Regions from separate parts of the Homo sapiens genome. Here region 2 is linked to region 1. Evidence: fine-mapped expression QTL. A gene starts in region 1. The other region holds a variant in brackets. All regions are shown on one strand. Distances are from middle to middle.

Region 1 (4,395 bases):
TTTCTTCTTACTTGTCAATGTAAACAAAAATATCAACCAACATTCATATTGGAACTACATTCAGTGGTCAATTGCAAACAGGCTGACCAAGGGTATAAGAGTTCAGCAAAAATCAACAAATGCATGCTGTGAGAATCAAATGGCTATATAGAATTTGTAATAAAGAGTATTTTATATTTTATTACTTGTAAATTGTGCAATATACATCCTTCATATCAGTAAAATTTATAATGAACTTATTAGATGCATATGTATTTGTTTTTGCTCACAGTGCTGGCAGCACCAGCTTGGAGACCTCCCCTTCTCTACATTCCACTGTTGTTTTCTTAGGTTAGGCCATCTGTCATCATTCCAGGTTTCATCCTCTCCAATCCCACACCCATATTGCTACTAGATTAATCTTCTTAATATTAAATGCAGACACGACACATCCTTCATTAAAACTACCAGTGCCTATCTGGGACCTTCTGAGTGAACTCTGGGCCATAGAAGGCCTTCCTTGCTCTCCCCTGTTCACCTCTGCAGCCTCCTTTCTTATCAGATTCCCCTGTTCCCACTTTACTAAAGTTAGGCCAAACTGCCTGCTGTTCCCAGAGCATGCTTTACTTATTCATGCCACTGGGCCTTTGCATGTGCTTTTCTCTGCTTGGGATGCCTTTTCCAATCCCCCTGCTCCCAACTCCTGCTAGTGTTCGCTTAGCATTAAAGCCATGCTCAAGCAACACCTCTCCCAGGAGCCCGTGCCACCTCCATTTCGGCACTTGCTATCACCGCCAGTTTTCATGCAGGTCCAGCATTCTGCCCCCCGACCCCCACTGTCCTACAACCTGGAAGATCCTCTGGGCTGGGGGAGACATCCCCAGCATTTGGCATGTGGCCCCAGGAGATACCAAGTAAGTTCTCGTTGAATTAATGAACTACTTAATTGGTTTCAGCTACAGCCTATAGCAAATCACAGGATTTAGCCAGGAGAAATAGACACGACTCATCTCTGAACTCAATTGTTGCTTTAAAAAAAAAAAAAAGTTGTTTACACTGTTGAAAACCTCAACTGAGTTTTTTCTTTCCTTTAAGCATACAAATAAAGCCAGGTGAATCATTTCTTTTCCATTGTTTTCTGGAAGTCAGCTAGGCATACCCTGAGTCTTCTTACTTTAAACCACTGATACTCTTTAAGCAATAACCAAAACACTTGCTTCTGAAAGATAGTGACAGCCATGATTTACTGGGCTACTCAAATGCTCCAAGTATGTTCTAAGTGCCTTACGCGTGTCACCCCATGAATCCTCAGCAACATCGTAACGCATGGGGCATTATTATCCCCATTTTACAGGTAAGAAAAACGAGTCTTAGGAAAGTTAAAAGAGTCATTTGAATTTGCACAGATGCTGAATAGCAAAGCAGTGATTCAAACAAGGGGTGGTCTGATTCTAAAGTCCATGTTTTCTCTTCTGAGCCCATTCTTTATTGCTAAAAAACAAATACAATGTCTATCAGGCTTAGCCAATGGCCTGGAACAAATAATACTCCAAATAATACCACAAAGGGCACTGACACAGGTCCTTGCCCAGCTGTGTTCTTCTTATTCCGGATACCTAGACCCAGTAAGAAGTTTGCCCTTTCCCTGACCAGATTTATAGGAGAAAACTGAATGATGCCAAGGAATACCTGCGTCCTTCGTTAAAGGCTGCATCCAAAAGTCTCCGTGACCAGGTCTAGGCCTTCATCATGGGACAACTTTCCAACAAGGAGCAGGGGTCTCTTGCAAGTCTGTCCGCGGAGCTCCCTGCCACCAGCACTGTTGCCGCTGTCTTTGTTTACTGCTTGTCACTAAGCACTTGCTGCCCAGCGAGTGAGTCAACAAGGCCCCTTCCCTTTCCTGCCACCACTCTCATTCCCTGGGTCCTGCGCAGTCTCTGGCCTGTTAGCAGGCACTGCCACCCCAGCAGCCTGCGTCCTCAAAGCCAGTGACCCGTGAGAGAGCCAGGAAGAGCTCAAGTGGATTAGGTGCCACTGAAGGCAATGGGATTGCTGCTCAGCAGGGCTTTTACGCTGATGTCTCTTTATCTCCTGGCCCAATCAAAAGAAAGAGCTCTGCAAGGAACTGGGGGCAGCCCCAGAGCAGAGGCTTAGTGTCATCAACTCAAGAGTCCTCCATGCCCTTTCATAGTGTCAGACATTGGACCTGCAACCAACAGGACAGGGAACCATGTGAAAGCAGCAGGAGGAAATGATAACCTGGATCTGTCTGTGAGAAAGCAAGAAAAATGTGGTTAGAGAAAGGGGGAAAGGAATTCTTACTCTTTCTGGTGCTTGGATTCAGAAAGGAACCAGCAGAGATGGGGAACAGCAAGAAGTAGATCATAGCTCTGTAGTAGAAGGGGCAAAAGAACAGATCTCTCAAGCCCTTTAAATCAATAGCAGTGTCAAAACTGAGACGTATTTATTTAAAAAGAAAACATGAGTTTTTGCCTGACTACAGAATAAAATACTAAAATTTGAGGCCGGGCACAGTGGCTCATGCCTGTAATCCCAGCACTTTGGGAGGCCAAGGCGGGCAGATCACGAGGTCAGGAGATCGAGACCATCCTGGCTAACATGGCAAAACCCCGTCTCTACTAAAAATACAAAAAATTAGCTGGGCCTGGAGGCGGGTGCCTGTAGTCCCAGCTACTCCGGAGGCTGAGGCAGAAGAATGGCGTGAACCTGGGAGGCGGAGCTTGCAGTGAGCCAAGATCGGGCCACTGCACTCCAGCCTGGGTGACAGAGCGAGACTCTGTCTCGAAAAAAAAATCTGATGAAACTCAGTGCTGGTGAGGGCATGGAGAATGAGTACTCTCATATGCCAATAGTGAGATTACAGATAAGTGCAACTTCTCTGCAGGGAATTTGGTAATATTCATCAAATTTGTAAATGTACATATCCTTTGTAAACCCAGCTGCTAAGAAGTAACCCCATGGACATTCTTGCAAAAGTTCACCAAAGCATCTGAGAAAGGATGCTCTTTGCAGTGTATTTTGGTAGTAGCAGAAAACTGAAAGCCACTGAAGTGCCCATCAACAGTGATTATTGTAGTTCACACACAGTAGAAAACCAGCTATGCAGCTGTGTAAAGGAAGGAAGTAGATCTGTGTGTGCTGGCATATAACAATTGCCTAGAAAATTCTTTAAGTGACAAAAGGTATGGAATAGCCTAGTATGTTTCCTTTTATTACAAATAGGTACATAAAGACCAGGTATATTTACGTATATTTATGTATACATATTCTTTATACACTGTAGTATATTAGAATATTATGTAGACATATTCTTGTGGTTCTGGAAGGAATCACAAGCAACTTAATAGTGGTTGCTAGGGGAAAGAGTTTTGGCTCATTATTTAGTCAGGAAAATTATTGTTCATTTTGGTATTTTCCCCCTATAACCTTATGTTATATTACTTGAAAAAAACTAAAAAACACAATGTTTTACATTTTTTTCTGCTTAAAGCTATCTATATTGACATTCCCTGCTAGCTAGCAAAACATTTCACAATATCTGCAACAATCTTTTACTGTTTTTTCCAAACTTGTCTTCTCATCAGATTCAGCCTTGAAGACGATAAAATGCAGATTCCCAGGCACCACCCTGAATCTGCTGAACCTGAATCTCTGGGCCCGAGCCAGAGCATCTGTATTTTCAGCAAGTGTCCAGGTAATTTTTATTTAGTAATTTTTTCAGGCTGACCACGCAACCTTTCTCCCAGAAGAAGAAAGTTGACTTCTCCAGTCATGTGGCTCGTTCACAACAGAACAAAAAGCAACACCTAAGTCATCTGCCAACAGGTAAATGCTGGTCTGCTTAAAGTCACCACCACTTTCACTTTTTCTGTTAAAAATACTAGCAGTAACCCCCTTCTATTGTTGCTCTGCTAACATTTCATTAAGTCCATTTTTTTGCATAAAAATTTTATCAATGTGTTTTTGTTTTTCAAGTTATCAAAGCTAATAGTTTCTCTCTGAGTTATCTCTGTGTCATTCCCTATATAATTTTGTTATATTTTATATATTTTTATTTTTTAAGGTTATTTTCCTGTCAAAATTCTTTATTGCGTATGATCATTTAAAAAAAAAACTTTATTTTAGGTTCGAGAGTACATGTGAAGTTTTGTTACAGAGGTAAACTCATGTCATGGGGGTTTGTTGTACAGATTATTTCATCACCCAGATATTAAGCCCAGTACCCAGTAGTTATTGGTTCTCTGTCTACTCACACCCCCCCAACCCTCAGGTAGACCCCAGTGTCTGTTGTTTCCTTCTTTGTGCTCATAGTTCTCACGATCCAGCTCCCACTTATAAGTGAGAACATACTGTATTTCATTTTCTGTACATGAATTAGTTTGCTAAGAATAATAG
Region 2 (4,395 bases), 100 kb before region 1:
GCTTTCTTTTCAGGACCCAGAGGAAGCCTTCCTGCCTTTCCCTTTTGACTTGACAATTCAAAAGCGGCACACAATAACATGACAATAGTAACACTCAATTCTCTCCCCTCTCACCATCTGTCACTGAGACACAGCTCGAAGGCCTGCCAGGCAAGGCTGTTACCAAGGAAACAGCCGTGCGTTCATCTCCCATGCTGTCATTAGCAGAAGGACACTGCTGTGTACTCCTGGGGACTCTTCTCTCTAAGACCAGTCTTGCAACCTAGAAGGAAAGGTGAACAAACTCAGTTTACACTTCATATGGCAACCAGGAGGCACTCCCTTGACTCTGCAAATGCTTCTTAATTTTCGAATCCTTCCTATAAGCAGACTCATTTGAATCTCTCAACTAGCCTATATATTGGGATCTAGACCCAGATTTCTCAGTGCTTATTAGACAAGTGCACCTGAAAGCAACACATGTACCTCCACTTCACACATGCAGTGCCACACTCATCTTCCTCCCCTCACTCACCCTCACTTCCCCTCCTCGTTCTTCCTAAAACACTCCTCCCCTCGCATTGGCTCACCCCACCATTAACCTGCCAAGGGCCACATTTGGAGTGGTCCAGCTCTCCCCCATCTGGTTTCTAAGATGTGAACATTCCCCATCAAGAACAGCTCCTCAGTGCCCCCTCCCCTCCACCTCCTCTCTCACTGCCAGTGACCCGCTGGGCCGTGGCAAGCTCTGGTTACCTTGGCTCACTGGACCCTGTCTGCACCCTTCTTGGTCCACCCCATCATGGCTGCCAGTGAATTGGTCTAAGACAAAAACTGAACATGCAACATTCTTGATTTAAAGTCTCCAATGCTTCCCATCACCTAAGACCCAAACCCATGGCACCCCAGGTCTGTACCACCTGCCCTCCCCTTTCTTTCCAATGTGATTTCCCACATTTCTCCCCACAACACCATATACCCTTGTCGCCCTAAGTGTGATTCAAGAACCAGCAGATAGACATCACCTGGAAGCTTCTCAGAAATGCCAAGCTCCCATTCAGGGCATGTGGCCCTGCCTTCATCTTCCTGTTGCACCTGTCACTCAGCACCTGGCCCAGGATCCCAGAGGGACAATTCCTACCTGCTTAAGCTGCCAGGAGGCCAGCCAAGTACCCTCTCTACCCATGCTCATTAGCAAAGGTCTAAATATCAGAAGGTGCCAATAAATTATGGCTCTGTTCTCAAGATAGGTCAACCAAAGTCACTAATATAAGCAAATTTCACCAGACACCAGAAAACCGCTTTGGGAAAGAAAGCGAAAAGTGGCCAGAACATTGCCCCAAGCTTGCTGGAAGGGCCTTCAGGAATCCCTCCTGTCTCTGTTGACTTTTTAGTTGCCAAAAGAGGGTGATGCCAGCTCTGTGGCTCAGGACACAGAGGCAGTTAGAGGCTCCTAACCTCAGGCAGAGGACTCGGCACAGTGGGATAACATCGAGTCACTGCGGGGCAGGGAATAAAGGGGACATAAAGGATGAATGGCTCTGCTCTTGGCACCCTGAATTCCTACCTCATTGTGAGGAAAAGAATCCCAGGACACTCTGACCCACGCCCTGGTGGGTACAACACAGGGTGAGGGGGAATGGCATGAACAGGGAACGGAGTGGGGTCATCCTATGCAAACGTAGGGAGGTAAGAAGGCCCATGGACACAGGGCCAGCGGGGCTGGGGCAGCCAGAGCCAGGCTAGAGCAGTCTCTTCACTCCATCTTCTCCATTCCGCTGTCTGATTCCAGAATTCAGGCAAGCCACCAGTAAGTTTCTAAGGCTATCTATGGGGGGTGAGATTTTTTTTACTCAGAAACATCTATCTGCTATCTCCTGGGTTTCACATCCCCATAGAAAAGTGAGGGTAAGAAGAAATGGAAGAGAAAAAAAAAACTAACAAAGAAAAAGTCTTGTTTCTTGCCTGCCTCCCTCCCACCCAGAGGCGATTTCAGCTTCTGATGTTGTTCAGGAAAGTTCCGGAAGGAGGGGAAGCTGGTCAGCAACAGTCCACTCACCTGCCCAGGACCCGTCAGGCACTGCACAGCCTGCTTGTGGGTGAGGCCGCACAGAATCACTCCATCCACCTGCAGGAGTCGGTCACCTGGGAAAGGGATAGATGTCATGTCATGACCTGGTGCTTGAGGCTGCAGGAGGTTCCCTTCCAGGAGGCCCCTGCCCGGCACCCCTCCATGCAGCCTGGAGAAGTGGGAAAGGAAGCTGAGGTGCCAGGTGTCCCCCTGGAGTCAGCAGGAATCCTGCCTCTCTGAGCAGTCTCACTCCCTTCTTCTCAGGCACATCACAGATCAGGGATATAAAA[G/T]CCTTTCTATTATTGGCTCACAGAATGGTTGAGCCAGCTCTGTTCAACCTTATCCTTCCTCCTGTTTTCCTGTGAAACCATTTTTGGAAGTATTTTCAAGTCACTTAGATATTTATATCTCCAGCATGTATTTTTTTTATTTCAAAAAAAGGTCAGGGAGGCATGGTTGACGCTGGGGACACCAGAATTCTAGGGGAAATGGAGATAAGTAAGATCCTAGGTTCCCCTTTTGGCTCAATTCTGGCAGTTTTGGAGACCAGTAAAAATCACCCCCTTCCATCAGAGAAGTGGGAGCTGAGCAAGGGCAAACAGAAGGCTCAGGTGTCCTCCCCGGATGTGCGAGTGAGTTTACCGAGGCCCACTTGTCCTCCAAGGGAAGCAGTATGTTTTCCCATGGAGGCCAAAGAGCAACACAAGTCTTTTAAGTCTTCTACTATTTTTCTATCACCTATGCTTCCCAGTGTGCCACTGCAGACCCCCCAACCTATCAAATGGGCAGGGCAGGTTCTATCACCTCCTTTCCAGGTGAGAAAAGTATGACCTGGGGAGGCAATCATTTGCATGAGTTTTCAGAATGGGAGCAGGGCAAGGCCTAGAGGCTGCCCCTCCCAGTGCAGGGCTCTTTACACCATGGAGCACAGAGTTCCCAATGAGGACCCATCCCCATCTCTCACCCTGTAGGATCTGCCCTTCCTTGGCAGCTGGTCCTCCAGGAACAATGGATTTCACATAGATACCACCATATGGCACACTGGTGTTAATGCCACCCTGAAAAACACAACAAAAAACTCACCACCCATCTTTCCTCCTCCAGGAAGCCTCCCCAACCTCCCCAGCTAAGGGAATCCCCACCTGCCCACCACTCTATCCCATGACCTTACCTCCGACTGGCACTGTCTTCTGTATTCACCTGTTCGTTTAGATTGTATTCTCCACTGAGCAATAAGATTAGGTGTTCATAAGCTTAACAATAGCAACTATGTGAGAGATCTGGGCATGTCCCCAGCCCAAGCACTGGTACAAGGCGGGTGCTCAGCAACTGCTCACGTGGGATGCACCACTATCTCTATATAGGTAGTGACCAGCGTAGGTGGATATGGCTGTGGGCCTGAAGGCTTGTGCCTGGCACGTCTTGTGTGCTTTGATGGGCCAAAGGATATGTGCATTTTTCATTATAATACATGTTGCCAGATTGCATCCCTATGTGAATATGGATATACTTATTCACATTTCTACCAGCTTTGTATGACAGTACCATTTTTCTACATTCCACCAGCTATATTTGGCCAAGCTGGTAGACATAAAGTTTAAAATTTTATTTTAATTTAATTTGTATTCCTGTGGCTTTTCACGGGTTTGAGTGTTTTTCATGTGTTTAATGGCCATTTGGATTTGAGTGAGACATTTCAAGAATTATTTTTGAAATTAAATATCTGCAAAGAAAATCCAAGTTTTTGCCAGCCAAAGGAAATCATCAACCTCTTCTCAGCAAATATATATTTGTGAATAACCCAAAATTTAGTCAGTTTTTCAGATGAAAAATAGCTATGTTTGGTGTCTGATAAGGCTGTTACCCCAAGCCAAGAATAAATGGACCATATTTGGTATCAGCCTGTTCACTCCATGTGGATTCATGAGCCTTATTGCTTGGTTTCTTACTTGGTCCCTTAAAATCATCTACTGATGACAAATTCATTGCAGGCTTAGGGTCCAAGAAAACACATATTCTTGCTCTAGGTACATAGCATTATCACAGGGGAAAGCAAAGAATGCCCTCCATTCACATATCTCTTGAATTTCCTCTGAAAATTTTCATCAGCCATAGAGTGTCCTTACTTTGGTGGGAGATGTCATTCTATTTCCCATCAACAGTTAAATCCAACAATGACATTCCTGAAATCCAGACCCATTCCAGGGTCTGAAGGTAATGGATCACTTTTTTTTTTTTTTTTTTGAGACAGAGTCTCACTCTGTCGCCCAGGCTGGAGTGCAGTGTTGTGATCTCGGCTCACTGCAAACTCCCCCTCCCAGGTTCACGCCATTCTCCTGCCTCAG

Direction of the effects. Positions count from the first base shown, and alleles are read on the strand shown. Sizes are in standard deviations (SD) of each study's normalised expression.
In carriers of allele G in region 2, the expression in cerebellar hemisphere of the gene that starts at base 1,822 in region 1 tends to be higher than with T alone (small effect, 0.31 SD a copy in GTEx).

Evidence for each region. PIP is the estimated chance that this variant, and not a neighbour inherited with it, causes the effect. A credible set is the group of variants that fine-mapping cannot tell apart.
Region 2: its variant is the best candidate, but not a certain one, in a credible set for the expression of FRMPD2 in cerebellar hemisphere (GTEx, PIP 0.89).

Annotation. Positions count from the first base shown.
Region 1 is chr10:48,272,875-48,277,269 of GRCh38, forward strand. FRMPD2 (FERM and PDZ domain containing 2) reads right to left here and starts at 1,822. Exons shown (of 29, transcript NM_001018071.4): 1 at 1,669-1,822. The coding sequence starts at 1,693.
Region 2 is chr10:48,172,832-48,177,226 of GRCh38, forward strand. FRMPD2 (FERM and PDZ domain containing 2) reads right to left here. Exons shown (of 29, transcript NM_001018071.4): 23 at 3,015-3,108; 24 at 2,039-2,124; 25 at 115-262. Among named protein-coding and RNA genes, the nearest start is that of FRMPD2, 100 kb to the right of the region's middle. The variant G/T (reference allele first, on the strand shown) is at 2,341.